Linked DNA regions of Homo sapiens: region 2 is linked to region 1. The links come from fine-mapping of genetic effects on gene expression. A gene starts in region 1. The other region holds a variant in brackets. All regions are shown on one strand. Distances are between the middles of the regions.

Region 1 (16,035 bases):
CGGTGGAAGTCTACGTTAGAGCAGGTCCATTTAAAGAGAATTCCACTCACATTAGAAAATGCCCCTTTTATTTAGTCTCTCTGCACAATACTTTCTTTTTACATTATAAAATCACACAGGAGGAAAGGTTTTTGACAGGAAGCCAACAGAAGACAACTTGCCAAGCAAAACATTGAGGATCCATTGCCAGCATCTGCAGATAATTTTTTTCAGAGAAAGAGGAGTCTTCCTGGTGATGAATGAATATTTTGACTTGGCAATTAACACAATTATCCTGGAAGACATGCATGCATGTGTCTCCCTATAATACCTTGCCTGTTGCCACTAAATACAAAAGCCCCCTGCCCCACCCCCCAAAAATTGTTTTAATGGACTAAAGACCAGGAAATTGAGCCAAATCTCCAAATAAGGCAGGTGTAATAATAATTCCTCCTAAGAAGAGGCCTGCGATCCTCTGTTTGTCTTTTAGTGTTGAAAAAAGGGCAGAACTTTTCCTCAAAGTCTTCAGTATGAGAATATTGGTCTTTAAACTCATCACCACTCATTCATACATTGAGCATCCTCCTGATATTTTAGGGGATCTTCTAAACTTAACTTTTTAACAATCAGCCCTTCTGAAAGAAGAGTTTACTAAGTTCATTGATTCTCTTTTGGCAAGCTCGCAATTCCTACATTTGGACAAATTAAACACAGTAAAGATTTCCTATATCAGCTCAGAGGACACTACCTGAAAATTCAGAAAGCTTTTCTTAGACTTCAGGAAAAAAGAAATGAGAGGATGAAAGGATGAAAGGAAGGGAAGAAGGAAGAAAGAAAGAAAAAAGGAGCAAAGAAGGAAGAAAGGGTTAAGAAGAGACAAAGTAAGAGGAAATAAATAATGTAGAATACATATTTCCAAAACGGAAAGAAAAAAACAATTCAACTAACATATATTAATCTTTATTCTATAACAGACATAAATAATTTTATGAATTCATATGACCTATACAAAAGACAAGATATTGCACTAAATTTAGATATGGGATATTTGAATTTAATATTAGCTAAACAGATAAATATATACAATTTAAAGAGTTAAGGCAAAACCAGATGATACTTCAAATACAACAGAAGCCTTGAAAAATAGGTATAATTAGAAACAACAGCATCCCACCACCAGTTAATAAAGTGGTCATGTCTACGGAAAAAAAAAAAACCTTAGGTTTTTAATAAAGTGGTTATTATCAATCATTTTAATTAAAGTTGAGCAATAAAGTATAAGATTTCCCTCGGAGGGGAGCTGTTTTGCTGAGGCTCAGGGATTGAGCACTTAGATTTTGGGTAAGCAACTTTTTCCTTGTCAGATTTATGATCTATTCTTCTTCTTAGAAAATATAACTTGGAAAATATGACTCTTTCACATATACAATTAAAATACAACTATGAAGCATTCTTTTTTTTTGAGAGAAGTCATGTCGATGATATCGTAGTCAAGGTAAATTTGTGGGCAAGCCATTCATTACCTTATTTTAAGAGAAAACATAATACCAGTTACTGAAAAAAAAAATCCAAGTTTTTTACAAGAACCAAACAAACTAATTCCAAAGGAATAAAAACAAATATAATCAATATATTAACACAGTATACAGTTCTTTGGCAGTATCACACTAACCGTTGATTGAAGTCAGAACTTTAGAGTTTTCTAATCCTTAGACCTGGTTGCCAGTCTTTTAAAACTAAACAAATAAAATTCCACATCTGTAACTAATTCAGTAATCCCAGGAAATGAAATTCAGAATAAGTCTTGCAGACAGCTTTTGACTGTTACATTTAAGCATAGGTATTATCTGCTTAGAGTCCCAATCCAAATATACTGAAACAGACACACACAAATAATCTGTGAAATTTTGTATTGGTTCAGACAGGCTAGAATCCTTAGAATCCATATCCACCCATGAGAAACCAATAAAAGACATCAATCCAATGATGAAAAAATGATCTTCCAATAACTCAGGAGTGGGTCATCCCTCACCTGGATGAACATCATGGAGAAATTGAATCCTATAGGGGGAACACCAGAAAGCCAGAAAACGTGGAATACTGCCAGCCTCCAACCAAATTACCTTTCTCCAGTTTTAGGTAAACCTTATCCTCTTTATCTAGGTAGAGCAGGACACCATTCGTGGCAGCTTCACGAGTAACATCTTTGTCCCCCGCAAAGGCAGATATTACTGGTTTTCCATTTAACATCAAGTTAACCTAGAAGAAGAAAAATAATAATAATTGAAAAGTTCTCTTTAAAGTCAAAACATCTACTGGGGAGAATAAATAATGTCTAAGATGATAGACCCAGTAAAATACCTGATGTTCAGGAAATATATTCCCTTCCTTTCAAATTAGCCAATTGTGGGGGCCATACTTCACATGTCTGCTGAACTGATTTTTTTAATTTTTTTTTTCTGATTGGAATTTCCTTAAATTCCTACAAAAGAATAACATCTATGGAGACCAACCTAGCCATGTGAAAACTAGCTTCCCTTCAGCACATAAATTAAGCTTACTGCTTTACTTAACTCTTCCACCCAACAATAATCTTTTGGAAATAGAGCAGGCTTGTGGCTTCCCGGTACATTCGTAAAAGAGACCCTCTGCCCACTGACATAAGAGACCCAGATACAACCCAATCCTACCAACATCCTTGCGAATTTTTGTGCAGCTGTAACATGCATACTACTGAAAATCAATTGAAATAATGAAGTTTGTGTATATATGTGTCTGTGTGTGTTTATTTCTTTTTCTATTTTCCCTGATAGGAAACAAGCATCAAAAACAATCATCAGGCCAGGCATAGTGGCTCATGCCTGTAATTACAACACTTTGGGAGACCAAGGCAGGAGGATCACTTGAAGCTAGGAGTTCAAGACCAGCCTGGGCAACATAGCAGGACCTCATCTCTAAAACAAACAAAACAACAAATTTAAAAATTAGCCTGATTGGTCACATGCACCTATAGTCGTAGCTTCTCAAAAGGCTGAGGCAGGAGGATTGCTTGAACTCAGGGGTTTGAGGCTGAAGTGAGCTATGGTTATGCCACTGCATTCCAGCCTGGGTGAAAGAGTGAGACCCTATCTCAGAGAAAAACCAAAAAATAAAAAATAATAATCACCACTATCACTGATTTTAGTGATTTTAGTGATTTTAGATTTAGATTTTAAATTTTAGAGATTTCAGTGACAGATAATTAGAATCAACTCAAAACTGTATTAACTATTTTCTATTCTTCAATTTTGATTACACTGTGTCAAGCATTGCATACATTTCTAAATATTGGGGGTTGGGAAAACTTTTCCATGGAAGTAAGTTTGTTTTCTAGATTTTTTTAGGTTAAAAGTCATATGGAATAAATTAAATCTGAGGCTGATCCATTTATCCATTTACTAGGACATGTAAAAGTATTAATAGATAAGCATGTAATCTATCATTCATATTGACATAATGTATAACATAAATACTGAGCATAAGATAAAAGGTTATCTTAGAATTCCATGCACATGTATTTGTGTCATTTAGTATTAGCATACTGGAATATTGTTGGAACAAGCTCCACTGTTGCTTTTGAATGTAAGGTCAAGCCCATTGTCTTAGAAAGCAGAACACAAAATATATTAACTGTGGAACTGCAGTTGGTAAGAATTCACTAGCATCAGAGTAACTGAGGATAAACACAAGCATACGCATAGAACACCGTTTTTTAAAAATGTATTTTGAATAGTTCCTCCTTCATAGACTTATTCTTACTGATTAGCTGTATCTCATAATTTTAAAAAATAGCAAATGTGTTTTATTTATTTAGTATGCACTTGTAAAGCTGTACTAGTCTTACAAGTTTTTTTCTTATGAGTTCAAGTAATTCTTGTACATGCATTAAATGAAAGCATGATCTTACAAAGAGATTTGTGTCACTGAATTTTTACTCAACCATGGATTTTTAAAAAATGTTTGATTGTTATTAAGGTAATAACTTCAATTCTCTATTTTTCTATACGCTTTTTGTCACGTCTTAATGGATGTTAAAGAGAAAAAAATTAGAAATTAAGTGTTTTAAAATAAATGATAAAGATGGCTGCTTATTTCTATTGTGGAAACACAACTTTGGATAAGTACTTAAATATATAACCCACTAAAGATAAGCACAGTTGGTTGAGAGTATGGATGGAAGAGGTCAAAACACACACCTGGATAGTTTGGCTCTGGTAGACTTTAATCACGTGAAAACTGAAACTGTAAATTCCTTTTCTTGGTGCTACAAAGACAGACTCCAATGTGAAAAAATTACCCACATTCACCAGGATCTACAAATAAAAATAATAAATAACAATAAGTTATTATATTTTCTTCTGTAACTAAAATGAATTTTCTTCCTCTCACTCTCTTCCTCTCCTCTTCCTTCTTTCCCTCCTTCCTTCATTCCTTCCTTCCTCTTTCTTTCTTTTCTTTTTTCTTTTGTTCATTCATTCATTCTTGGCAACTAGCTTAAGAAATCATAGAAAATAAAACATCTAGTTCTGTATCTTTCCTCTTAACTGATTTGGAAAATTGACTGGAATACTGGAAGGTTCTTCTGTCTTTTAAATGATATAAGAATAAATAAAGTAACTGCTTTGTATTCATGTCTCAATTTCCAGCAAGGCCCAATGGCTCTGGAAACATCGAGCTAACATTTGAGAACTTATAAATATTAGCTTTACCTTGAGAGTTGGATAAAAGGCACCCGCTATGTGTTTACATTCCCACCTTCTACAAGCCTTTGCAATGTCCAGAGGTGACGTTTCCAAGCCAGCCAATCAGCATCTGTGAGCTCTCCGCAGCATCCCTGGACAAACCACAGAGGCATGGGTACCCCCTCCACCATGTGACATAATCCTTGACACTGAACAGTTGGTGCACAAAGTGATCTGAATGCCTGGCCCTTCTCTGAGCCACCACCACCCCTCTCCTAAGATCTGTTACCATTTTTTTTTTCATTCCTGTGCCAGCTAGGCCTTAATTATAATAATGTGGCAATGAGTCAGCCCTTGTGGGCTGCCAAAGAGGAGAGCATAGAGAAGGCTAAACTATGAAATAGGTGGCTTTCCCTGTTCCTCCCCGGGCTGTCCATTAACCTCCTATCAATCACCTGCTCTTTATTTGAAGTTCAAGGTTCAAAAGTGAAATTAGATACTGTTTCCCAAGAAAGCAACAATGCATTTTGTATTCCAAAATATTCAGCCTAGTTCTATTGGTTATAAAATTAACTCTAAATTTTAATAAGTGACCTCTTAAGCTAAATTTGCAATGTCACATGGGTAAGTCTCTTTCTATGAGAAAGAGGGATTGGGATGGAGGATGGATGTTAAAATAACCAGGGTTTGTTCCATTTCTTTCCAAGAAATACACCTGTAAGTGGCATTCAAAAATAATAAGAGGTCCCTAAAAAGATATACTTCTCATATATCAATGGCAATCTGCTACTATCTCTTTCGAACACTGCATTCTTGCCAATATTAACACACTTGCAAGCCTCTTGCATAATTCCCTAAAAATGTACTATTACCTCTGGGCAACATACCAGAATGTAGTGACAGTCAAGCAGATGTATCAGGCTCAACACCTAACTTAAAACACATGTACGTGTATAATTTCATTCTGAGATTTCGCCTTCTTCCAAGTAAGCATCAGATTTTTTTTGTAACCTGATGATAGATGGTCTTTCAACAAGTCACCAGCTGTGCAATAATCCCCAGCAGAGGCTTTACAAAGAAATTTTTCAAGCACAATTAAAATAATTTGAGGTGCTTAGTGGTGACTTCCTGATTCAGATACAAGTAGCATAATTCATTAGCAATAATGAAAATAGCTGATTAGTGTTGGCTACATATAAAACTGGATGTTGACTCTACACTGTAATTGGAGCATCCAGGTACATCGAGATTTATAACCAAATGTGTGTTCTTGTCTCTAAGATGCAAGGCTCACTGAAAAGAAGAACAAACCCTTTTCCTCTTCTAATTGATGGAAAGGTCATTGAAAGGAACACCCTGTATAGAGGATAGTGCAATGCCCACAGTATTCCAACATTTAATTAAAGCATTGAAATACAAACTAGGGGTGGTGCTAGACTTTATTTCCATCAAGATGGAAAATACTGCACCAAAACCCCAAATGGAGCTACTTAATTCTTTAAAAATTATGTCTATCAAATACTAAGCCCCTAGAGAGGCATTCTCTGTCTTTGGCCAGCTGGAGAGTGCATTAGTTAGGAAAAATTAAGCAAGGAATACAGATGTCACCTCGTGCTTTCCCTGGCACATCCTGCAACACCACTTAACCTGTGCCCCCTGCACATTGCAGCTTTGCATACAACTGTGAACTGTGAATTTGGAATTTAAAAAGACTCTGGATACTGTTGGGGCTGAAATTAAAAACTCTGAGGACAGTTTTCTCCCTTAAGACCCCTTGCTAAAGGTAAGCTGATATCCTGGGGTTTCTCATCAAGCCAAACACGGAGCACCAGGTCGCTAAACAGCAGCTACAGCTTCCGTCAGCTCTTCCCCTACTCTCATCAACCTCAAAGTCTGTCTTTCCCCAGCTATTTGCAATTCTCTGAAAGGACATGAGCCCGGGAAGGGAGAACTGGCTCCCAAGCGCTTTCCTACAGGAGCTCAGCGCAGTTGCCAAATTCCTTTTCCTCCCCTCCTCCGCAACTTTTCTCTAAGTACCGGAGAAGGGCTTGCTGCCTACTCCGAGGCAGCGGCAGTGCCAGCGGTGCCTGGCACACGAACAGTGGAACCTGCAGGCGAGATCTGACCCCCGGCTCTGCCCCCGCCCTCCGCGGCCACCTGCCCGATCTCTGAAGAGTGTGGAAGCCCGGGGCTCTCTTGGGAGAGAAGCTTCTCTACCTGGGAGAAACAAATCAAACATTTATCCTGTTCCGCAAAGGTACCCAGGGAGCAGCCTCAGCGGCACCCGCAGAGGAGTCTGAGCAAGGGCACCAAGATCTGGCCAAGAGATAACGACGTCCAGGGACCAGGTGCCCTTCGGCTCCCGCCGACCTGTTGCTCGAAACTTGCCCTGAGCTCTCGCTGCCGGGCTCTGGGCTCCCAAGCCTCTCCCCCGCCGCCGCAGCAGCCTCTTTTAGGGGCCCGGAAGAAATGGGAGCCGGGGCTGGTGAGAGGGGTAGGAAGAGGGACGGTAGAAGTTTCAGACCCAGGCATATTTGGGAAGGCGAGTGCTTTACATGATTCCCCATTTCCCAATCGGACCAGCTTAGCCTGGGCAGGCAGCCTCGTGCTGAGGTGCCTGGAGACCGCCCACCCCCTAGGTGCTCGCTTCCCCCCGGGTCTGACCTGATCGAAGTAAATGATGCGCGTCTTGTTGCTCATCTCGGATGGCTCGTGGTTGGTGCTCCGCACCGCCGAGAAGGCGACCTTGGAGTTGGCCGCCCGGACCGATATCCCCAGCGGGGAGGAAGAGGAGCCCTTGGAGTCCGTGGCCGGGTTCGAGTCGCACACCACCAGACACTTGCCCTCCAGCACGATGGGCTCCGTGTCGTTCTGTGCCCAGACGGGCAGCCCCGGCAGCGTGAGGACCAGCAGCACGGCCGGCACCGCGGACAGCGCCCGGCGCCCGGAGCCCATGGTGAGCCGTGTGGGCAGCCGCAGCCGGCTGGCGCTGGTGCTCGCCCGCGTCGCCTCCTACCCCGGGATCCCGGTGCTCGGGAAGATGCTAGCGGCTAGGTCGACAGCGCTGCAGGAGCGACGGCGGCGGCGGCGCGCACACTTCCACCAATTCTGTGGCTTGAAGTCAAAGTCTCCCCTCGAGCTCTCTCGCTGGCTCTGTTACCTTTGTCCTTTAAGGAGCTCATGCAGCACCCTTTACCCTACTCTCCTCCGCCCAAGAATCAGCCCTGCCTGGGGCCCCTGCACCCACTCTGGTTCCTAGACATCTGAAAGTCATCAAACCCTCACATTCACACCTCAAGGCAAAAAATAATAATAATAATAAATTCTCACCCCAAACTCAAGCACCACCAGCTAAACCACGGAGCAGGAACAAAAAGAGGGGACTCAAAGAGAAGCCACAAGGGTGGCGGGTGCCCAGCGGCGCGGGTGCCAGTCCTGTCTGGCTTGCGGCAGGGACGAGTTACAGAGGCAGAAGGTCCTTCCCAGGCTGAGAAGAACGCGAGGCTGTGTTCATGGCCAGGACGCCAGCGACTCCCACTTTCGCCTGGTCAAAAAAATCCCCCAAACCTGGTGTCACCCAGAGGTAGGGAGGGAGGCAGCGGCTAGCCAGGTCCCTCGCACCGAAAGCGCGGATTCGCAGGATCAGGTCCAGGGCGCCGGGCGCAGCGTTCAGGGCGGCTGGTCCGGCGGGGTCCTCTCCTGCCTGGCCGCCCGCCCCCAGTCCCTGCGCACAACTTTCTCGTCCCTCGTGCAGCCCGGAGAGCGCGAAGCGGGCACACGCGCTCTATTTATAGGAGCGCAGCGTCCGGCTGGGTTGGCTTATCGCGCAACCCGCGGGCTCCGAGAAAAGGGGGAGAAGGCGTCTGGTGACCCCATCTGAGCAGCTCTCTCCTGACGTTTAACGCACCCCAAAGCAAGCGGGGCGCACAGCACTGGTGATTGGCAAGGTTCGAGGCCCCTCAGCCCCTGAAAGCCCGTGGCGTAAAGGATGCGTGCCCAGAGAGGAGCCCACGGCCCTGCGCTGGCCCCAGCTCCGCGCCCACTCTCTCCTGCTCGATCTGAGTCCGCAGAGGAGGCGGCTGGTCCCCTCACCCCTCCCAGCGCGGAACTCTGCCGCCGAGTGCCCTCCAAGCGGAGCGCGGCGCTGCCAGGCCGGGTCGCGAAAAAGGATAAGCCGCCGCGGACCCGCGCTGCGCGCTGCCCCGAACCTGGGGACCGGCGGGCGTCCCGACCGCGCCTGGCCGGGAGCCCGCCCCACACAGCCCTGGGGCCTGGCGAGCTCAGGGAAGCCTTGGGGCGGACCAGAGCCCGTGGGGGCGGCTGGGAGGAGGTGCCTGATTCCTTCCTTCCGCTCCGGGAAGATGAGCCTCAGAAGCCGCAGGGGCGCGCCTTCCCCCCACACCGCGAATCCTCCCCAGGCATGGCCAAAAAAAAGAGTGGGAGAGGGAGTTAACTCAGCAAGAATAAGTCCTCCGAAACCGTGCCAACAACAATAAAAAAATAAAAATAAAAATAAAAATAAAAGACAATCCCACTCCTAGGAATACAGCATTTTTCTCCCCTTTGGATGCGCTTTCCGCCCCCGTGCCACTCCACTGCTATCTTGGCCTCTGATTTGCAAGAGTTCCCTTCCTCTTCTGCAGCTACCACGGGGAAGGGAGGTTTGTCTCTGTCTGGACCCGGCTGCGTGAACTTGGCCGAGTCACTAACCCTCTCTGAGAGGGGGGCGCGGCGTTAACTAAGGTCCTCCCCACCCCCATCCCGCCAGCTTTCCAATTCTGTGATGCTGTGGGGTCATGGCGCCCCTTCCCCAATTTCTTCTACACTTCCAGCTGCCAGAGGGCAGACACGTATGGTATCTTTAACCAAAACAGTATCCCCTCCAGGCATTCGGAGCTCCTAAAATGGCATTGGCTAGTTATGAATGGAAGGGATGTTTATTGAGGGAGGTCCTTGGGATGGACGGCTCCCATTCCTTCCTGAGTGAAGGACGCCCTCATGAGCGTGGCATTCGAGCCCTCCACAAAACAAGGTGAACCTCGTCTCCAGCCTTTTTCCCTTCCTTCAGAAGGGCCGGGCATTGAGCTATAAGCACCAGCTCCAACTGTTAAAATTGAAGACACTACGAGGAATCCCCTAACCCTCACCTCCCTATAATCTCTCAACTAAAGTGTTAATACTTGGTGCCACAGGGGCCTTCAGATTCTGCTCCAGTGGGGCCAGTATCAGGTGTTTTGACTTTATGATTTTATTTTACTTGTGGTGGGGGGTGGTCTCGCTATATTGCCCAGGCTAGATGCAAAACTACTGGGCTCAAGCGATTCTACTACCTCAGCCTCCCCAGTAGCTGAGACTACAGGCCGGTGTCAGTTCCGGCTGGCAGGTGCTAGTACCATGCTATTTGTTAAAATGTTGAAAGTTACCTATCTAAGCTACAACCAAACAAGGTGAACTAGTGCCTTCTGAAGATGGCCACCATTTACCCAGCTTTGATGCCCCACCCTAAGCCCAGCACAATCTTCACCTGATCCCTCTCTGCACTTTGTAACTCTCTTCCAGATTTTAGGGATGTCTGCCTGGTTAACAGCAGCAATTTCTTCTCATTTGATGCAGTCTTTTGAGGGTGGGTGCTGAGTTGAATTTAGTTCCTTTTATTTCCTGTAGGGGTAAGCACCCTGCCTTCCTTGTCTGGGACAGCTGTTCAATAACTAGAACTTTGGTTGTTCAATTTCAGGCTGGGAGAAGTTTGACAAAAAAAAAAAAAAAAAAAAAAAAAAAACTGTGTTGAATTGTTAAATAGAAAATAAGCTATCTTCCTCACCAATTCCAATATATTCTCTCTACCTCCTTTTCTTCTCCAGGCACTTCCTGCACGCAAGAACTGAGATTTGAAGAAACCTATTCTTTCTCTCACCAAAAATATTCATTTTTAGTCCCAAAATCTGCATAGTGACCATAGTAAAGACTCAATAATTGAGAAATGACTGAATGCTTCCTAATAGAAGGTAATTATCACTCATATTATAGTATAAACTGCTTTAAATGAGTCTCTCTCAGTAAAATTTAAATTCAAAGCCTCCTTAATAATTGGGGATAAGGGTCTCGGTTCCTTACTAAAGGATGTTCTGCTCTTCAAAGTGTTCTGAAGATAAGGAACACAGCATTTTCTGTGGACCCCCGCTAAGAGAAGTTATCTTATATTGTGAATCAGAGGGTCCTGACTCTTTTTCCCACAACAGTTGATTAAACACGGATAGCCCCTGGGTTCTAGGACCATCAATGCATTTGATACCAGAAGTCCAAGATTTGTATGGTCCAACTTGGCCAGATGACTTGGGGCTGCCAGATTTTCTCTCTGCAATCTTAATGAGACATCAAAATAGCTTCCAGTAAGCACTACATGTGGCAGAGACAAGGTTTGTAGTCTCCCAAACTGACGTGGCCATGTAGGAGTCATCTGCAAGCTGAAGCAGAAGAGGTATTGGAATAAACCAGAGGACTGGCCACACTTGTAGAAAGAAGCCAATTCTGGAGCATGAGCACTTCTAAGAAGTACAGGGAGTGAATAGTCAATCGCCAGTTCTGAACTCTTGCTTACAAGAGTTCCAGAAACATTTTCTCCTAACCTTGGGTTTCTTGGTATCCTCCTATGTCTTTGAAATAAAAACCCAATTCCCTTGAGCTAGTTTTAGTAACATACCGCTCCCTGTCATCCAGAATCCTCATTAGAACATTGTCCCAGAAACCATACCACAAAAGGCTATGGATCTCTTGCCAAAAGACTAACAAATCCAATCTCCTGCCTGTAGGAAATGCTTTTCCAACATTTTGGGAAAGGAGGCATCACCTGTTCCTCACCCCCTACTTCAGCCCCAGCATCCCCAGGAGAAAAGAAACAAGATCAAGTTTAAGTTTCTCTCCAACCACAGCATAGATCTGTTTTTCTTTTTCTTTTTCTTGTATTTTTCCAGTTGAAAATATGCTATTAGAAGACCTAGCAGTGACCCAAATATTTTCCCTTTCTGAGATTCCCATATTGTATTTGATGCCTAGGATTTTTTTTTTCTCCTAGACCTTTAGAGATGACGCAGAAATGCATTTCAGTTCTCTGCAGCTGGGCTTAACTTTAAAGTAAATTAGAATCTAAACTATCCTTGCATAGGAAAGCAATACTTCTGAGGTCAGTAAATTCAATGACTGCTTGTCCAGCCATCCTTTAGAGAAACCAAGTTTCAAGCAAGCCCAAGACAGTAAGGATCTATGAGCTATTTTCTGACTGTGAAGAAAATGTTTCTGAGAAGGCAAAGACAGACACACACAAGGTATTCAGCTCTAAGGGCCTCACTGTGGTTGAATGAAAGCAGACTCCATGCATCATGCAGCAGAGACAGCCGCAGGTCAGTCGTGCAGAAGATGGAAAATCGAGAGAGAGAGAGCAGTGAGGCTTGCATCATACCCAGACAAAGTTCCACTGAGTTGCTTAATTACCCTTTGCTCTTTATAATGATAGTTATCAGCCCAAGCTAATGATCTTTTTTGAGGGAGAGTAAGTAGCTTAAGAAGAAAAAGTCTTGGTGGGACTGTAAACTAGTTCAACTATTGTGGAAGTCAGTGTGGCAATTCCTCAGGGATCTAGAACTAGAAATACCATTTGACCCAGCCATCCCATTACTGGGTATATACCCAAAGGATTATAAATCATGCTGCTATAAAGACACATGCACATGTATGTTTATTGCAGCACTATTCACAATAGCAAAGACTTGGAACCAACCCAAATGTCCATCAATGATAGACTGGATTAAGAAAATGTGGCACATATACACCATGGAATACTATGCAGCCATAAAAAAGGATGAGTTCATGTCCTTTGTAGGGACATGGATGAAGCTGGAAACCATCATTCTCAGCAAACTCTCTCAAGGACAGAAAACCAAACACCGCATGTTCTCACTCATAGCTGGGAATTGAACAATGAGAACACATGGACACAGGAAGGGGAACATCACACACCAGGGACTGTTGTGGGGTGGGGGGAGGTTGGAGGGATAGCATTAGGAGATATACCTGTTAAATGACGAGTTAATGGGTGCAGCACACCAACATGGCACATGTATACATATGTAACAAACCTGCGCGTTGTGCACATGTACCCTAAAACTTAAAGTATATTAGAAAAAAAGAAGAAGAAGAAAAAGTCTCCATGAACAACCAATATGTGAGAACTTACATAGTCTGGAAAGTTCCAGAGTCATGTTGAGTAAATCTTCATAGCTCCTTCTGGAGACAGCCAAATGACAGACTTGTTTCATATGAGGATGGTATTGTGGGAAAAAAATAGATGGATGCTGTAAAAAATACTTCTCAATTGGTTTTAGAATTTGAAAATTGTTTGGGACAGTTTTTCTAGATAGTTTATTCCACTCACCCCATTGGCAAATAAGGTACGTGTCTAAGACATCAGTGAGAAGTGAGACGTCTTGGTCATGGCTGCAGACAGGTTTTGATGCCCCTTTTTGGCTTCCCATGATACCCTGAGCATGTTCCAGTCATTATATTTATCATAATGGTTTTAGTTGATTTATTGTTGTGTTTTCCCTGGACCATTAACTCTTTGGGAGGACAGAATTTAGCAGAGAGTAGGTATGCATAAATAAAGTTTACTGAATAAAGTAACATCATTGCTTTTAGTTCTCATAAGGGAAACAATATAACATTTAATCACTATGATCTAAGTATGATAGGAAAAGTAAAATTATTTCAGAAATGTTGGGGGCTTAAAACGTCAAGTCCACCTTAGTTACTAAGAATGGAAGCCCAGTGAGAAAAGGTTTTGTGGAAAGGGCCACATCTTGAAATGTGTTGAGTTGAACCTTGAGACTGTAGTAAAATCTTAGAAAGAACCTAAAAAATTCTCTCTCTCTCTCTCTCCCTCCCTCCCTCTCCCTCTCTCTCTCCAGTCTCTCTCTCTCTCCCCGTCTCTCTCTTTCTCTCTCTCTCCCCCATCTCTCTCTTTCTCTCTCCCCACTGTCTCTCTCTCTCTCTCTCTCTCTCTCTCTCTCTCTCTCTCTCTCTGCTCTCTCTGTGTCCCTCCCTCTCTTCCCCTCTCCTGGGCACATCTTCATTATTCTTTGGCTCACTGCAATCTACCGTTCTCTGAGGCCCGCATGAGGGAAAATGGCAGCTGATACTTCCAGATTTCACACATAACAAAGCCATCCACTCAGAGATGCCCCCAGATCCCCGAGAAGAGATGCACTGCAGCCATCTGCGTTCAGATGCCCAATCCCAAACCAATCAACTTGGCTGTAGAAACAGAATCATGCTGCACACGTGACTGATATCCCAGCAATGAGGTGTGTAGAAAATTGGGGCGGGGCATGGGAAAAGGAAAAATCCTAGAAAGCTAATATAAGCAATATGTGGCAAAGGGAAGAAGAACAAGAGGCAGACTAATTTGTGTTGTGTGATTCCAAGTTAATTCCCTGCAAGTGTGTACAGATATGTGTGTATTTCAATACACAGAGAATACAAGTTGGCAACAACTTGTCAAATTTAAAGGAATTGAATAGAAGGAAACACTATTAATTGTATTTCAGATGTTTCCTTATTATATATGTGCTCACAGCAATTGTGTATTACATTGTGATTCACGTTTGAAAATTTTTTGTTTTTTGAGGTGCAGTCTCGCTCTGTTGCCCAGGCTGGAGTGCAGTGGCATGATCTTGGCTCACTGCAAGCTCCGCCTCCCGGGTTCACGCCATTCTCCTGCCTCAGTCTCCCAAGTAGCTGGGACTACAGGTGCCCACCACCACGCCCGGCTAATTTTTTTGTATTTTTAGTAGAGACGGGGTTTCACCATGTTAGCCAGGATGGTCTCGATCTCTTGACCTCATAATCCTCCTGCCTCGGCCTCCCAAAGTGTTGGGATTACAGGCGTGAGCCACCGCGCCCAGCCCACATTTAAAATATTTTTTAAAAAAGAAAGGGTTTCTGAGTAGATCATCCAATAGTGATCTATCACATTCACACTTCTTCTCCATAGTTTACTCTTAATTAAAGTTTAAAAAGTGGCATTGATTGAACAGCAATCTCCCTTTTTTGTTATACTGATCCGACTCTAAAAATCACTTACTCCAAGTTTAGAAAGATGCTCTGATATAGAAAGCCTCACAGTATACATTTAAGAAAAAAAATTCCATTGCAACTAGTAACACTGATGCATGCTGTCAAAATTTCTCGCTACATTTTATTCAACTTGGCTTTCTTTATATAGTATGTTAGCATCTAGGAAAGCCATAGCTCAGTGCTGGGTGTATGACATGTGCCTGGCCACTCGTGTTTATGTTGTGTAGATAAGAAGAGTCTAAATGTGGGGTCCAAACCAATGGCTACTTGTAAGAATCAGCTGGGATGCTTCTTTCCAACAGAGACTCTCTGGCCTTACTCTGAGATAATGGCTCTGCCCATGAACTGGGAAGGTTTACTTAACCAGCACCCAGGTAAATCTGAAGCAGATGGTGTTTGACTTTGTAGATGCCATTGGCGTGATGCCACAAGAGTCCATTTGCATTCGGGTTTTTTAGCTCTATGGTTAAAAACAGGGTGTTTAGAGTCAGCTCTACCTCCTACTAGCTTTATGACCATACAGCAAGTTACAAACCTTCCTTCATCCAAGAAAATTGCAATCATGAAAATCATATTCAGTCCATAGCTTCTTGTGAGAACTGAGTGGGGAAATTTGGGCAGAGCATTTAGCTCTGCACCTGGCACACAGGAAAGGCTCAATTAAGGGTAGCAATTATTATCATTAATCTGTAGACTCTACTAATGACTAAAGGTGTCAAACCACCACACTCTAAACCAAGGCCCATTAACTATTGGCAAGCAATGGCCCAACTTAACCTCACAGACATTATAATAGGGGAAAACGAAGTGTACCCAAGTGTGAGAGACAATCCAGGTTCAGATGCCCAGAAAATAATCACACCCGAGTTTGCAGGGCCAGCCATTGCTGATAGATCAATGCTTATCATTATGCAGAGCTAAAGCTCTTGAATGAAGCGAAGACACCAGGCATGTTTGTGAGCTCCCTACAGGGGATGAACAACAGGTTTAATTTTATTTTTATTTCTTTCTTCCCATACTCTCAATCATTATGTCTCATCTGAAAGAAGCATTGAGTGGAAATAGATGGATTCTTCAAAGTGGAAATTATACAGAAAGTCAAGAACAGCTGGTCAGAAACAGTCACCACAGAAACAGGAGTTCAGAAAGCCAGGTAGACACCAGAAAATAACACGGCAGTTGTTAAATATCCAGGAGCCAACACGGG
Region 2 (16,035 bases), 260 kb before region 1:
CCTATATATTTTTTGAAAATATCAAGTTGTAGAACAATAGATATAGTATACAAACAGGTGGCATATAATATATAGCTGTTTTTTTGTATGTGCAAAAGCTTCATAGGTATCACAAACTATCTCGATAAATGGAGAAATATATACTCTTTCCCCAGATTCCAAATAAAATAAGCAGTCTTCTTCATAAATCTTAATAAATCCTCATTTCGCTTTTACATATAAAAGAATGTACACATCAACAATAGCTAATGATATATGCTACTCCTTATTGAGCTCTCACTCTATAATAGGTACTTAGGATTAACCATGTATTACCTGAAACATATCAAGAAGAAAGACACCATCACTACTCTGATTGTGTAGATGAGTAAGCTTAACCAATAAAAGCTTGGAAGGATTTCACCTGGAGCTTCTATTTATCATTAAAGAAGAATAAATCAATTTTCTATATACTCCCAAGTCTTTTTTGAGTACAAATTATTTGTTCCAGTTTCTAGTTGATCTCTCCTGAAAAAAAATTTCTAAAACTTCAAAGTAAAGAACTATTCCCCAATCTGCAGTTCAAAATGCTGCCCAAATATACGAGGCCCCGTCTAACTGGACATTACCCTATGCAGATGAAATCTCTTTCTAAACCTTCTTTAACACCTACAAAGTTTAATACCTAACAAAATCTCATGGAGATATTTATTGAATGTTTACTACATACTAGACACTCTGCTTATTTTTCACTGTCTCATTTACATATTACAAAAATCTCAGGAGGTAGGACCTCTATGATACCACTATTATTTCTAGTTTGCAGATGAGGAAGCCAGTTTTCAGAAAGATTAACCAATGTGCTGAAGGTCTCGCAGCCGGGACTCATGCTAACATCAGCCTAGCATTAAAAGAATACTCTCCACTGTCTCTTAATAACAACAACAAAATAGTCTACTATAAAAGGTACTAATTAAACTTCCTAAAGATCTTGAATAACTCTCATACATCAGAGATGGATTCTAGGGGCACGAGCGATGATATTGTTTTCCTAAAAGTCTTTGTTCATCACTTTTATGCATTTCTGCTAGGGAAATCTAATTCATTTTTTTTTTCTTGAGATGTATTTTCTATCTATGGAAGATAGTTAATATTTATACTATATCCTACATTATTAGTGATGTTCCATATATATTGATATTTGGACCATGAATCATATATTTCATTATAACCCATACATCAAAGAACATCAAAGAAACACTCAAACATATACAATACTGATAATAATGATGATAACACTCAAACATATACAATACTGATGATAATAATGTCTAATATCTAACATCTCATGTTCCCACCATTTGACAGATTCAAAACAAAGTAAAATGTCTTTTGGAGCAACTTGGATGGAACAGGAGGCCATTATTGTAAGTGAAGTAACTCAGAAATGGAAAATCAAGCAATGTACATTTTCACATAAATGGGAGCTAAGCTATGGATACGCAAAAGCATACAGAGTGGTATAATGGACTTTGGAGACTCGGAAGGGGGAAGATGGAGGGGAAGTGAAGGACTAAAATTACACATTGGATACAATGTATACCACTCAGGTAATGGTGCACTAAAACTTAGAATTCTCCACTATATAATTCATCCATGTAACCAAAAACCACTTGTATCACAAAGACTATTGAAATAAAATCAATAAAGTAGTTGATGTAGAAAAAAAAAGTTAAATGTAGAACAGAAAGAGTAAGTACCTGTGGAAAATACCTAGGTTTTTTTTCTTTTCACTCACTCTTCCTATAACATACTATCCTAAATAGGAAGTATTTATTTAATAGCTTTAGTTTCTCCCATACCATTCTCCTAACTCTTAGAGAGACCAAAGTATACATGAATTAGTTTCTTATTTTAATTACAGTTTAATACTAACAACACCTGTTGGCTCCAAACTGAGAAACTTTTTTTCTCCTGATTCTCATCTGCTGACTGGACATTACTTTGGCAGTTTGTTTCTATAACAATTTCACTATCTGAAAAAATCTCACTCTCAAAGTAAAAGTGATTTTATCGCATTATGCAGATTTGCTTTCTCTCAGGTTTTAATATCAAGTTAGCATGTAAGTGTTTTCTACAATGAGAATTAAACATGCTGACTCTGTATAAGTTATGTTGTTTTAATAGTTAATATAATTTAATCCAAAGCTAATACTAGCCTAATTGGGTTTACTTGTGCCTTGGCTTAAGGTCTAGAATATAATAAACTTAAAGGTCTGAACACAGTGAGGTTAATTATGCTTAAAACCTGCAAAGCAGCAAGTTTTAGGTCCATTACACACACACACACACACACACACACACACACACACACACACACCCCCCAACAGGAAAATGAGTCAAAGAAATTCTTCCAGCAAGAAATGAAATCACGCCTTCCTTCTCAGGTCTGTGTGCCGCCATAGCTCAGGTTATAATATAGCACTTGCTTTTTTCCCACCTCTTGGTAGAGCTTTCTGCCAAATTATTTGTCCTCAAGGGCTATTCAGCTCACAGTTCTATGTTCAAAATGGTTCTCCAGTGCCTATGAAATTAAATATAAACAGCTTACTCTGGCTTTCCAGAATTCTCTAATTTGAACCCAATTTACCTGCACAAGCTCATTGCCCTCTACTTCACTGCATGATCTTTAGCTTAATTAAGGTAGCTTAAGTATTGTGCCCTCAACACTCAAGCAACTTCCCACCTCTGTTACTACCCACCCCTTTTCATGCTGTCCCAATTCCCTTTGGTATCCTCTTGATCATCCTGCTCGCCATTGTTCTTCCTTAGTCTTGCAGGGAACAATGGCAGGGTAAGGAAGTCAAGAGCAGGACACAGTCATAGCCCAGCTTACTGGACCTAAGTGCAACGCCACTGGCTTGCTTTTTGATGGCATTTTATATTTGCCTTGCATGCACATTTTCCAAAAGTGAAGGTTTAATGGATCCAGTTGTTCACCATAAAATATAGAATTATCTTATAGGACGCAAGTTAGTGTGAAGGAACCTCAGAGGTCGTTAGCTTTCCTTGGGTCCAGACCATCACAAATCTTTAGCCTGTGCATCAATCAGTCTTTCATCCAATCCACTGCTGTGGCCAAATGATTGGGCTGAGAGAGCAGAGTCCAACAGGAATGTGTGCAGGCATAGGCCAGATCAAGCCAGCAAAAGACACCTATAGCATGGCAAACATTGAAGACTTGTGGACTCCTTTCTGTCAAGTCCCCTTTTAGTACCCTAAATCCCACAGACAGATTCATTTGTTAAGAAATGAAAGTGGAGGAGAGTATGGATTCAGCAATAAAGAGGAATGAACCACGGACACACAAAACATCATTGACGAATCTCAGAAACATTATGCTGAGTGAAAGAAGCCAGATACAATCGAGTACCTACTGTATAGATCTATGTATAAAAAGACTTTGAACAGGCAAAACTAATCTATTGTGATAGAAATCAGAACAGCAGTTGCCTCATTGGGGATGCAGGGCTTGTCCAGGCAGAATCCCGTCAGACGCGAAAACGATCCGTGGTGATGTCAATGATTTACATCTTGATATGACATGAATTTCATAGGTATGCACATTTCCCAACTCATCAAACTGTATACTTCAAATTTGTGTATTTCACAATGAGGACATTATTCTTCTATATTTAAAATGAGATTTGGAAAGTCAATACAAGTTCTTATGCTGTTTTTCCCCATATGTAAATGAATTCTCTCATTTTCATTGGACTTTGAGGTGAGGAGCTGCATAGGCGTGTTCTCTGAAGTCAGAATTTCTGGGTCCAAACCCCAGTTCTACCAGTTTCTGGCTTTATGACTTTGAAGTTGCCCAAGCATTCTTAAGTTTAAGGCAATTTTATCCAAAGAACAATTATCATCATCATCATAAAAACCTCACAGAATTATTGTAAAGATTAAACAAAAGAGATAACACATATAAAATCTTATGTCTCAAGGACTAAGTATTCATCTATTAGCTGCAAGTGTCAATACCAGATTTAAGCACCTTAAAAGGTAAGGCTGTGCTTTCTTAGTCTTTTTGTTAGTCTCACCACACATTTCTGTGATCTGTGCTTCTCAATCACTGGGCTGTATGTACCAGGGGTGTGAATAGTAGATATGGAGGTTTTCCAACCATATAAAAATGACAACATAACTTAATATATGGTAGAGGTGGGAGTTAAAACACCTTAGATATTATAAATGCATGATATATTTGTGGAATAGAGTGAAATTCCTAGGTATGCTGAAGATAAAACAAGAGAGTTCAAAGTGGTTTCAGACATTCCCCTAGTGGCTTTCTGTTATCCCCAGAACTATCTTCTCTATTCTCCACTGATTTCAAGGTAAATTCAGTGGAGAAGTATTAGAAGTAACATGATACTGCTGAATTCAATCAAAATCTATATTATAGGTCATTTGGGATCTATATTTGGAATAAATATCTGCTAGTTCATATTAATTTATTGGCTTGACTGTATTAATCTACTTAATCTGTTAAGTCCTCAAATTTCAAGCAAGTAGCAATTCAATTATCCCATGAATGAAGGGAGGAACAATGTTGTGCACTTTGCATATTTTTAAAAAATTAATTTAAAAAAGGAAGTGTCAACAAGTAGTGGCTGGAGCCAATGTCATTGCCTGGGTTCTTTTGCCAAGTGGCTATCCATTAATGTTGGATCGTATGACAGACGTGATCCACTATCGATGTTGTCCAAATGGCAAGTTCCGTCAGTGAAGACTTTCAGGGAACAGAATGCTGAGGACCCATTGGTTCTTAGCGCTCTCAAAATTCATCCTGATTTAGCGTCAGGTGTTGTGGATACTGTACACATGAATGCTATGCACTGATCTGTAAAAGAACTCCTAAAATACTAAAAACAAACAACTTAGGTACAATCACATTATTTTAAGCTGTATTTTTCTTAGGGAGTGAGATAAGGACTGGGGCCCTTTTGGAAATTCTATTTTACACAGATGGAAACTGCCAAGATATGAAGGCTTGAGAAATCAACAGCCTTTGGGTTAGCTTAGGGTATATGCTCCCTGAATCCCAATACAAGAGCTCAGAATGGGCATCTGCTTAAGCACCCTGAATTGCTGTGTGTGCACTCCTATAACAGGCAGACACACACTCCTGCCTGGGCTGATCATCGTTCAGCACCATCTGCTTCACAGTCATTGGGTTTCCAAGTCATGCATGTAGATCCTTTACTTTAAAGCGTAATTGTTGATTTCCACACCCAGCCTTCCTTCGTCTGCTGCCATTTCTTCCATAGTTGGCACAATCATTCTGCAAGTATTCATTGACCTCCCACTATCTACAGCATAGCTTAGAAGTTAAAAGCACAGACTCCAGAATCAGACTCCCTAAATTTGATCCTGTACCATTTCCTGGCTTTCTGACCTTGGTCAATTCCCTTAACCCCTCTGTACCTGTTTCCTCTTCTATAAAATGGGTCTGATAGTAATTCTCAGCACATGGAATGATGTGAGCATAAAATGAGTTAACAGACGCAAAGCACTCAGTTTTGGCTAGCACATAGCATAACACCCGATAACTATTGCTGTTATTGTTGTTAGTATGGTCGGGGACTGATACTGAGGATATAGCAGTGAGCAAGACCGACTCTGCCTTACTTCTAGAGGGGCTCGTGGTCTAGTATGGAGAACAAAGCATTTAAAACATAAAGATAAAGTGAATGAAGGGTTATGTCATGGAAAGACAAAACAGAAGTACACAGGAAGAGCACCTAAAACAATCAGTCAACACTCTTTATGTACTGGTTCTTCCCCCAGTCTACGTAAGACATTTGTGGGAAAAGCAAGAAGACAAGACATATCTTTGTGGTTTAGTTGCTATAGGAGTAACCCATAAGGCACATAGAAAACATGAGCACCAAGTCATGGAGAGACGGCTGGGAACTTCAGCTACAACAGTGGTTCTCCATGAGGTACTTTTCCCAGGTGACGTTTGGCAATATCCAGAGATATTTTTGATTGCCACAGTGTGGGGGTGGGGGAGTTTGGCATCTAGCAAGCAGAGGTCAGGGGAGGTGCTAAACCTCTTGCATACACAGGACAGCCCCACAACAAAGAATTATTCAATTGATGTCACGAGTGCCAAAAATGAGAAACTCTGGTCTAGAAGGAGAGACTGGATTGTGATGAGTTTACAGGACAGAACGTAGGTCTGCTTTTGTGTCTGCTTTTCTAAATACTTATTATATACATTGATGTCTCCATCATTCAGACTGAAATTGCATTCATTTTAATATGCCACCCTGGAACAAACCTGTGGGAAAGATGTACAGCTGTTTTCTACCTGTAACTATTGAAGGCTATGAACAAATACCTTTTTTTAAAAAGTGACCACATTGTCTTACACCAATTTGCATAACCTACTGCAAATCATCCCTGGCCCTCCTGGACTATGCCATGGTGTCTTTCACGTAGTTTGTGCTTCAAGTAGACAAAAGCTTAAGGGGATAAACGTCGGGAGTTGAAGTGACACCCTGTTAAGTAGCTACTAGATTTGAATTTTCTCCCCAGGATTCTATAGTAAATGCTTAAATATATTATATTGTTACATAGAGCCCTAAATTGCACATAAAAATAATTCCAAGTACTGTATTTAACTTTAGTCTGATTTTAAAAGTAGTTTGCCAATTGCTTAAATTAAACAGGTATTTTATCAACTGGGGTTCCTACTAATTATGCTGTTCCTCTTATTAAAAATTACTCACTCTAGCATGTTTCAATTTCTGTAAAACAAAGAAAAAGTTTTTTTCACGTTTTTATTTTTAGAATGAAATGTGCAATGAAAAAGAAAAAAAAAACATATGTACAACATACCCTGTTAAAATAAGTATTTATCTTGGAAAGGCAAATGTATGGGTTCTGTATAGCTAGATTTAAGTACATCAAGCCTTTTAAACTCAATGACTGACTTACAGTCTGTGTAAAAAACCACCCATCAAAGGGGTAGAGCTCATTTAATTATTTACAAGTGTGTCTTTTTGCAGTTAACTGATCTGGGGACTTCTTTATCCTTTTTTATTTTGTGGAAAGTGTCAGTGTTAAGCACTGGGGCCAATATTCATTAAATTGTGAATACAGCTTTAAATGGATACAATCTTTCTTTGTCAATTATAGCTCAATAAAGCTGGGAAAGAAAAATAAAACAAAATAAAGTCAAATGAATAAAAGCCTAATGTAAACTATGGACCCTGGCTAACAATGAGGTGTCAGTGTAGATTCACCCATTGTGACACGTGTGCCACTCTGGTGCGGGTGTTGATAGTGGGGAAGGCTGTGCATCTGCGGGGAAATGGGGACAGGGGGTGTATGGGAACCTTTAGTAGTTTTTCTTTTCTTTTTTTCTTTTTTTTTTTTTGAGACAGAGTCTTACTCTGTTGCCCAGGCTGGAGTACAATGGCGGGATCTCAACTCACTGCAACCTCCGCCTCCCAGGTTCATGCAAGTCTCCTGCCTCAGCCTCCCATGTAGCTGAGATTACAGGCACATGCCACCACACCTGGCTAATTTTTTGTATTTTTAGTAGAGACGGGGTTTGCCATGTTGGCCAGGCTGGTCTCAAACTCCTGACCTCAGGTTATCCACCCACCCCGGACTCCCAAAGTGCTGAGAATACAGACGTGAGTCACCATGCCCGGTCCCTTTTGTACTTTTTACTCGGTTTTGTTGTAAACCTAAAACTGCTGTAAAATATAAACCTAAAAAACAACTATCAAAAACACTGTAAGAAAAGCAGATTAGTAAACTCATAGAATGTTAGTGTTGAGAGGGCCTTAGGAATAATTCAGTTTAGTATATTCAGGGTATAAGCAGGGAAATCCAGGCCCAGAGATGGGCTATGCCTTGCACCCAGCAATATGGTGAGTTCACGGTAAACTACAAACATCTGAGACAGAAAAATTCTACCATGGCCCTCAGTGAGGCCCTTGTTTAATCCCTTCCCCTGTGAACACGGTAGAATAATGTAAAAGTTCTTAGGTCTAGTCCAGTGAGATAGAACGCTCACACAAGTCAGGCAAAGCAGACCTGTCACTCACAGATAGGCAGCAAGGATAAACGGAAGTCTAGGAGCCATGACGAAGCTATCCTCCAAGGCTCAGGAAAGCTGCTCCGGGCAGATGGAGTCTCATCTACGCATGCCCCGCAT[C/T]GCATCACAGCTGAGAAACCCCAGCACGGCTCTGGGTTTATATACCCTGGGCAGCACCTGGCTCACTGAGCCCACGTGCTGCAGAACACTCTGTTCTAGGAAGAATGCAGACATAGCCTGGGTTGTTCCGCACCCTTCCTCCTTATCTCAGGGTGCTACATTCTCAGTACATTCCGGAGTTATTCTGAGAATTACCAACAGGAGGTGGGAAAGCTAGGTCAGCCAAGGTCATCCAGGAATCTGTCCTCCTCCAAGTAATATTCCCTTGATTAGACTACATTATATGAAAATGTCAAAGGATATATTTGTAGACATAATTAAAAATCTTAATTGGTTAACTTTAAGTTAATTAAAAGGGAGACTATCCTGGGTGAGACTGCCCGAATCAGGAAAGCCCATTCAAAGAGGGTGCAGCGGTCAGAGACTCAAAAGAGTAGAGATACCCTCTTGTTGGCCTTGAAGAGAAAAACTGCCCTGTTTTGAGCAATTCCACATAACAGGAAACAGTGGGTGGCCTCTAGGAGCTGTGGGATTCAGTCTTATAATAGCAAGGGGCTAAATTGTTCCACCAGTGAGCTTGGAAGAGGACCCCAAGCCTCAGATGGGCGTGCAGCCATGGCCAGCACCTGATTTCAATCTGCTGAGATTCCAAGCATGAGAATCAGCTGCGTACTCAGACTCCTGATCTATGGAGACCGAGATAATAAGTGAGTGTTGTTTTAAGTCACTAAATTTGTGGTTAAATCATATAACACAGAAAATTAATACAATAACCTTGTTCTGTGATTTTCCACATTTATAACTGCCTCCCTCCCATCTGTGGGCCAGACCATTCTTAGATCCTTTGAGATGATATAGACATTTCAAGACACAAATTAATAGGGGGCAAGCAAAGGATTTTCACATGCCCTTCATTCCCCCTATCCAATCTCCCATTTTATAATGCCCAGATAGCTTAGGCTCAACTTCCAGGCCTCAGCTAAAGATTTAGGTGGGAATTCTGATAGTCCTAAGACTTAGTGCTGACTTTGCTATTTTGGCCTATGAAGACAATTAGTACAATTCATTAAAACAACGAAATAAGTTTAAATCCATACATCTATACTGATTCTAAAAATAAAATCAAATGAAAAAAATCCCTCATTGGAGAAATGTAGGAAATTTCTTTATTTTAAAAATGTTAAATAAAGGGAAAGACAAGCATGTATCTCCCTTTCCTATGTGGATTCAAACTCAGGGTAACTAAACAGCTGATGAAGAAACTTCTCTTTATAAAACGTTCCACTTCTTGGAATGAATGAAGAAGAAATTATAGAATTCAAACATCACTATTTAAAACTCCAGTAAATTAATGGAAGTTAGGCAATGATTATCAATGGCTGCTAATATCACTTAAAGAGGGAAAAAAACAGACAACTATGTGCCTCCTCATGGTCAAACCACCACCTATGAGATCAACGTGCCAAAAAAATGGAATCCGCAATGTAAAAAGCCTCTCAAGGTCTAATTTGCAGGAAATACCAAAGGCAGAGAAATACGTTAAAACCACCACGGAAATGCACCAATCAAAACTCAGACAGTGGGATATGCCTAGCATAAACAACATGGTTCTTTACAGATGAATTGCAAGGAATAAAAATAGAGATGGTAGAAGAATGTACACATTAAAACACACCTAAGAGATATATCAATAACTGCAACTTATGAATCTTATTTGAACCCTGATTCAAAGAAAGTATATATACACACACACACACACACACTACAACTGGGAAAATTTGAACACTGGATATTTGATGATATTACATATTAAAAATCACTGGAGCTTTTAAAAGATATTCCTGCTTATTTTTTGGAATGAGAGTTCTTGACTTTTAAAGATATGCTTAGTGACGTAATGATAAGGTATGTGAGATTTACTTCAAATAAATGTGACAAGATGCAGGGGTATGTGGGTTGGGTCACAGGTGAAACATAATTGGCCATGAGTTGAACAATGTTAGCTAGTAGACTGGTGCATGGAGGTTTAATATTTTTCCATTTTAAAAATATACTTAAAATTCTCTATAGTAGAAAGTTTATATACAAAAAGCAAAAACAATCATGTCACCCTCTACTTAAAATATTTCAGTGACTTTTTATTGCTCTTGGGATCAAAGACCAAAATCCTGCAAGGTTCTGAATAATCCAGCCTTCGCTTCCTACCCCAGCCTCAATAGATCTCATCTTCCTTCTCTCTGAGTTTCATCTGCAAAGGTCTCTCATTCTTCCCAAGGTTCAGCGTCTTTGTAGGCCCTTTCTCTTGCCAGAAATCCTCCTCTCCACCTACTTTTTCTTACTGAGTGAAACAATCCTATTAAACAATCTCATAGCACTATGTTCATTACCATTAAGGTATTTTTATTGGTAGCAATTACATATAGATTTGGTTGAGGATTTTATTAATATATGATTCCCAGCAGAGACCTGGTATGATTTGGCTCCAGTGCTTTGCTCCTAAAAGGTGAACAAAATACTTACATGCCAAGGAATGGAATAAATAAAATTACTCAAGAACATCCAACCAATTTTTGCTAAGTAATTTATGTGTAAAGGGATGTTAAAGATATACACAAATAAAAAAATTGAGAAAATGATAGTGCTCATAAAGTATCTTTTTCATGGGTGTTTGAGAAAGTTCAAAGATGAATGGAGAGACTACAAAGAGCTGTGCCACACTGGATCCCTCACACTGGGCTCCTCAGAGAGGAGAAGAAAGAACCAAAGTCAAAGCCTTTGTTGTGACACAATTTATGCAGCAGGGAGTCTGTGATAGCCAATGGGATTCTCAACAGCCCATGTCTGAATATGATGTCCTCATCAGACAGAACAGAACGCAAGCCTGCAAACCACCAATGGTTAGATAGTCATCAATGGAGAGCTGGATTTCACTTATTTTTCTTGTTTTTCTAGCTTGGAAGGAAACTAAAGTGGGCTCAGGAGTAAGAAAAGAGAAAACATATTAATTCTCTTATTGGAAAGTATTTCCTTTAATCAAAACTGAAATTCTAACCTCTGCCATTTCTTTTTTTATTACCTCTTGTGTGCAATATGTCCTCTAAATTCAGATAATTTTCCTATGAGCCTAAACCTCTTACAGTATTCTGTCATTTATAACTAAAGAATATGGGTTTCTCTCTGTGCATCAGGTATATTTTGATCACCCTCTATGAGTAAGGTTTTATAATGGTGAACAAAATGACTCTGGATCTTCACCTTGAGGGAATCACATATAAATTAATTTGGGAAATAAGCCCCTTATTCTTTGATGAATAAGGTAAAGATAACTCTGAAATACATGTATTCAATTTTTGCTAGATGCCACAAAGCTGTAATACATTCCAAATGACCTGGTTTCTATGTTTTAAAGCAGGAAAATTATATATTTAAAACAAATTTCTATGTTTTAAAGCAGGCAAATTTGCTATGCAAATTATAAGAGGAAAAGAATATTTCCATCCAAAGGAATATAAATCATTCTATTATCAAGACACATGCATGCGTAGCTTCATTGCAGCACTATTCACAATAGCAAAGACATGGATTCAATCTAAATGCCCATAATTGATAGACTGGATAAAAAAATGTGGTACATATACACCATGGAATACTATGCAGCCATAAAAAGGAAAGAGATCATGTGAGTTGGAAGCCATTATCGTCAGCAAACTAACACCGGAACAGAAAACCAAACACTGGCCAGGCGCGGTGGCTCAAGCCTGTAATCCCAACACTTTGGGAGGCCAAGGCGGATGGATCACAAGGTCAGGCACTCGAGAGCAGTCTGGACAAGGTGGTAAAACCCTGTCTCTACTAAAAATACAAAAATAACAGGACGTGGTGGTGGGTGCCTGTAATCCTAGCTACTCGAGAGGCTGAAGCAGAGAATTGCTTGAACCCAGGAGGCAGAGATTACAGTGAGCCGAGATCGTGCCACTGCACTCCAGCCTGGGTGACAGAGCGAGACTCCATCTCAAAAAGAAAAGCAAAGAAAAAAAGAAAGAAAACCAAACACCACATGTTCTCTCTTATAACTGGGAGTGGAATGATGACATACATGGAAACACTGGGGGGAACAACACACACTGGGGCCTGTCAGGGGTGGGGCAGGGGGGAGGGAGAGCATCAAGAAGAATAGCTGATGGATGCTGGGCCCAATACCTAGGTGATGGATTGATAGGTGCAGCAAACCACAATGGCACGTGCTTAACCTATGTAACAAACCTGCATATTTGCACGTGTACCCCTGAACTTAAAAGTTGAAGGAAAAAAATATCTCCAACACATTTCTATACGTATTCCCATAGAGGGTAGCTAATTAGGGATTGGATGCGGGTGGTGGGAGGACCATATAAATAGAAAAGTATTCAACGCCATGCTTTTCTGAGAAATTAATAATACAGCAACAGGGATGTTTGCTCTGATAAAAAAAAAAAGTCAAAATGTTATCACTCAATAAGCAGCTATTCGTTCTAGGCTCTCATAACATCTCTACCTACTATCCTATACAATACAATCTACAACTTTCAGGCTTCTGAAAATTGAACGTGCCTTGTGGTCCATATTATTTTAGAGAGCACTCTATTTTAAATCACTGGGAGCTTGTAATATGAATCCATCAAACTGGTCATCTTCTTAAATAAAATAGCAATATTTAGCAAAGGCAATGGCATAATACCATACGAATTCCCTTTCACTGTGAGTGTTAGTGAAGTTGGCAGCACTTTCTGAAAAATGTGTTGATGTGCATCAAATGCCTTAAGATGGTCTTAAACCTTTAACCAATTACTTCATATGTAGGAGTCAATTCTTATTAAACTGTGGGAGGAAAAAGTAAAAGCACACATATATACAAGGATATTCAACCTAAATGCCAGAGAACAGAATACTGCTTAAATAATGTTGATGTATCCGTGTAATGTCATATTATACAACCATTGGGAGAAAAATATTTTCAAAGAATATTTAGTGACATGGGGAAATAATTCTAATATAATGCTGAATAAAATAAAAGCAGGCCTGAAAATACCATGTAATCGCAATAATATATACATACAGAAAGAACTAAAAATGTACTTCTTATAAATAACTATAGAAAGTTTATCAAGGAAGTAGTAGTATTATCTGAATGGTATAGATTATTTTTTGGATGGTTCTTTTTTTTCAACATTTTCTATAATCAGAGAGCACAAAATAAAAATTATCAAAGGAACACTGGAAAATACTATATGCAATATATAACTCTCTATTAATGAGAAAACTAACTTAATAATATTGTAATAATGAGAAAACTGACTTAAAATACAATATGTCATTTTTAACCATTGTACATCATTGGAATTCTTTTTATGTGCATTTGTTTATATGCCACCTACTTACCATAGAGATTTCAGGCATTTAATTGGGAATCCACTGAAGTTGGGCTTTATTTCTAGGCACTGTCCCTTAATTTTAACTAAACTCTTAAGTGAAAATACTCTTAGGCACACAAGTTGCCTACAGCATATCTATCAGTACCTAGATTCCTATACTAGAAATCAACAGGTCACCATTTCTATTAACAAATAATAAAAAAGAGTATTAACCTAATTCAAAACTTGTCAACTATTCAAAAATAATTAATCAGTGTTCTTCCATGCACTTATCCTCATTCATTCAACAAACATTTGTGGAGTCTCCATGTGCAGGCAGTGTACCTTGGGAACACCATGACCCAGATCCCAAGGAACTGTGTGCTAATACTACTGGGCAAGATCTTACGAGGTACACAGAAGATGAAGAAAATGTACCTGTCCTCACCTGCTACCAGTTGTTTTATGAGATAATAAATGTATTAAGTAAAGCAGGTAGTTGGGACACAGCTATAGAATTCCTGAAGAAAAAAAATACATGGAATATTTTTCAGAAGTTGAATGAGGAACAATAATGAAGAAACTCTCAGTCAAGTGGAATGCACTGTCATATTACCAGGAAGCCCTGATTTAAAACAGATCAAATTATCACCTCCCCGTTATTAAAATAAGTCATCAGAAATAATACCCAATAGACATGGCCGAATGTCGCATTTACAACTAAGAACTGGGATTGATATGAAAATTCATGCCCTGGTTGATTAGTAAGCACTAGAGCAAGTGAACAAAAAGTTAACTATATATATATTATATACAAAGTTTAATATATATAACCTACTACATATAGTAATTATCGCCTATAATTATATAGTATACTATTCTATACTAATATAATGTATAAATATGTAATGTATATTACTATATATTCAATTTTATTAATATATGATACATTAATATAATGTATACTATCATAATTATACAATAGAATTATATTATTATATAATTATGTAATATAAAAATGCCTATAATTATTATATGTAATTTTTATATATATATTATTCTTCCAGGTACTTATCCTCATTCTTTTTTATTATATTAAAAAATGATATATAATATATATCATTCATAACACCGTATGATATAGTCATTATATCATCACATGATAGAGTCATTATATGAATGCTACATATTCATAATATATACTTATATAATTGCATGTATTATGGTATTATATATGTAAGATATGATATATATGATTATATTATATATGATTAATATGTAATATATCATATCAGATAATATACTAATATATAAGGTTATATTCATATATAATTGGTAATATATAATATATATTATATAATATAGAATACAAATATATAAAATATATAACTGTATATATCAGATATTAAGTATATATCAGATATATGTTATATATTTATATATTACATATATTAATATGTAATATCTATATATTATACTACAAATTAATATAACATTAATTATATCAGATGATATATTATATGTTATATATTATTTTACAATATATAATATATGTCATATTTTATATTATTTTACAATATATAATATATGTCATATTTTATATTATTTTACAATATATAATATATGTCATATTATATATTATATAATGACATAATATATGTATTATAATAATGTATTATAATAGTATATGTTATATATTAATATATCATATATAACTATATATTAATATACGTTAATTATATCAGATGATATAGATGTTATATATTTCTATATTATTTCATATTATTTTATAATATATTATATATTAAATATATAAAATAAAATAACAATTCATGACAGAAAAAAAGTACAGGTTTGATCTATAAAGGCTCAAGCTAAAATATGATTCCAGTCAAATTAGGTCATAGATTGTGGAGAGGATCATTTTGTTTTCTTAAATTATTTGCACAAAGAAAGAATAGGGTGCCTTAAAATAAAATAAATAAGCAAATAAAAGGAAGCTAGAAAGGAGGTGGGAGAAGAGAGAGAGAGCAAGAGAAAGGAGGAAGTGGGGGAAGGAAGACTAGTAAGAGAAAAGTAAGCAAAGAAAACAAAATATTGATTTTTCCTGGATTACCAGTTAGATGCAGTTTCTGTAAATTCCAGTATCCAATTCTGAAATGCTCACCAGTTTGGAATGATTATTTTGCTGATATTATAAAGATGTATTGCTTCTTCCACTGAGTCACCCTGGTGCCTAAAGCTTACCTCTCCACCCCGATCCTTGCCCTGAACAAAGATTCTCAAACTGTAAACCCAGGACCACCACCAGCACCAGCAGCAGCAGCACCTGAGAACGTGTCAGAAATGCACATTTTTAGTCTCCATCTTGCACTTACTGATACAGAAATGGATAGAGTCCTATAGTTTCTTTTAACAAGTGCCATCTCCCCC

Which allele goes with the higher level. Alleles are on the strand shown, and positions count from the first base shown. SD is a standard deviation of normalised expression in the study named.
As copies of T replace C in region 2, the expression in testis of the gene that starts at base 9,003 in region 1 goes up (moderate effect, 0.66 SD a copy in GTEx).

Evidence for each region.
Region 2: its variant is fine-mapped to the expression of CBLN4 in testis (GTEx, PIP above 0.99).

Annotation. Positions count from the first base shown.
Region 1 is chr20:55,996,517-56,012,551 of GRCh38, forward strand. CBLN4 (cerebellin 4 precursor) reads right to left here and starts at 9,003. Exons shown (of 3, transcript NM_080617.6): 1 at 7,365-9,003; 2 at 4,215-4,331; 3 at 841-2,238. The coding sequence starts at 7,655. The coding sequence ends at 2,041.
Region 2 is chr20:55,736,808-55,752,842 of GRCh38, forward strand. It overlaps LOC107984001 (a long non-coding RNA gene), which reads right to left and starts at 8,224. Exons shown (of 4, transcript XR_936884.3): 1 at 8,103-8,224. The variant C/T (reference allele first, on the strand shown) is at 8,213.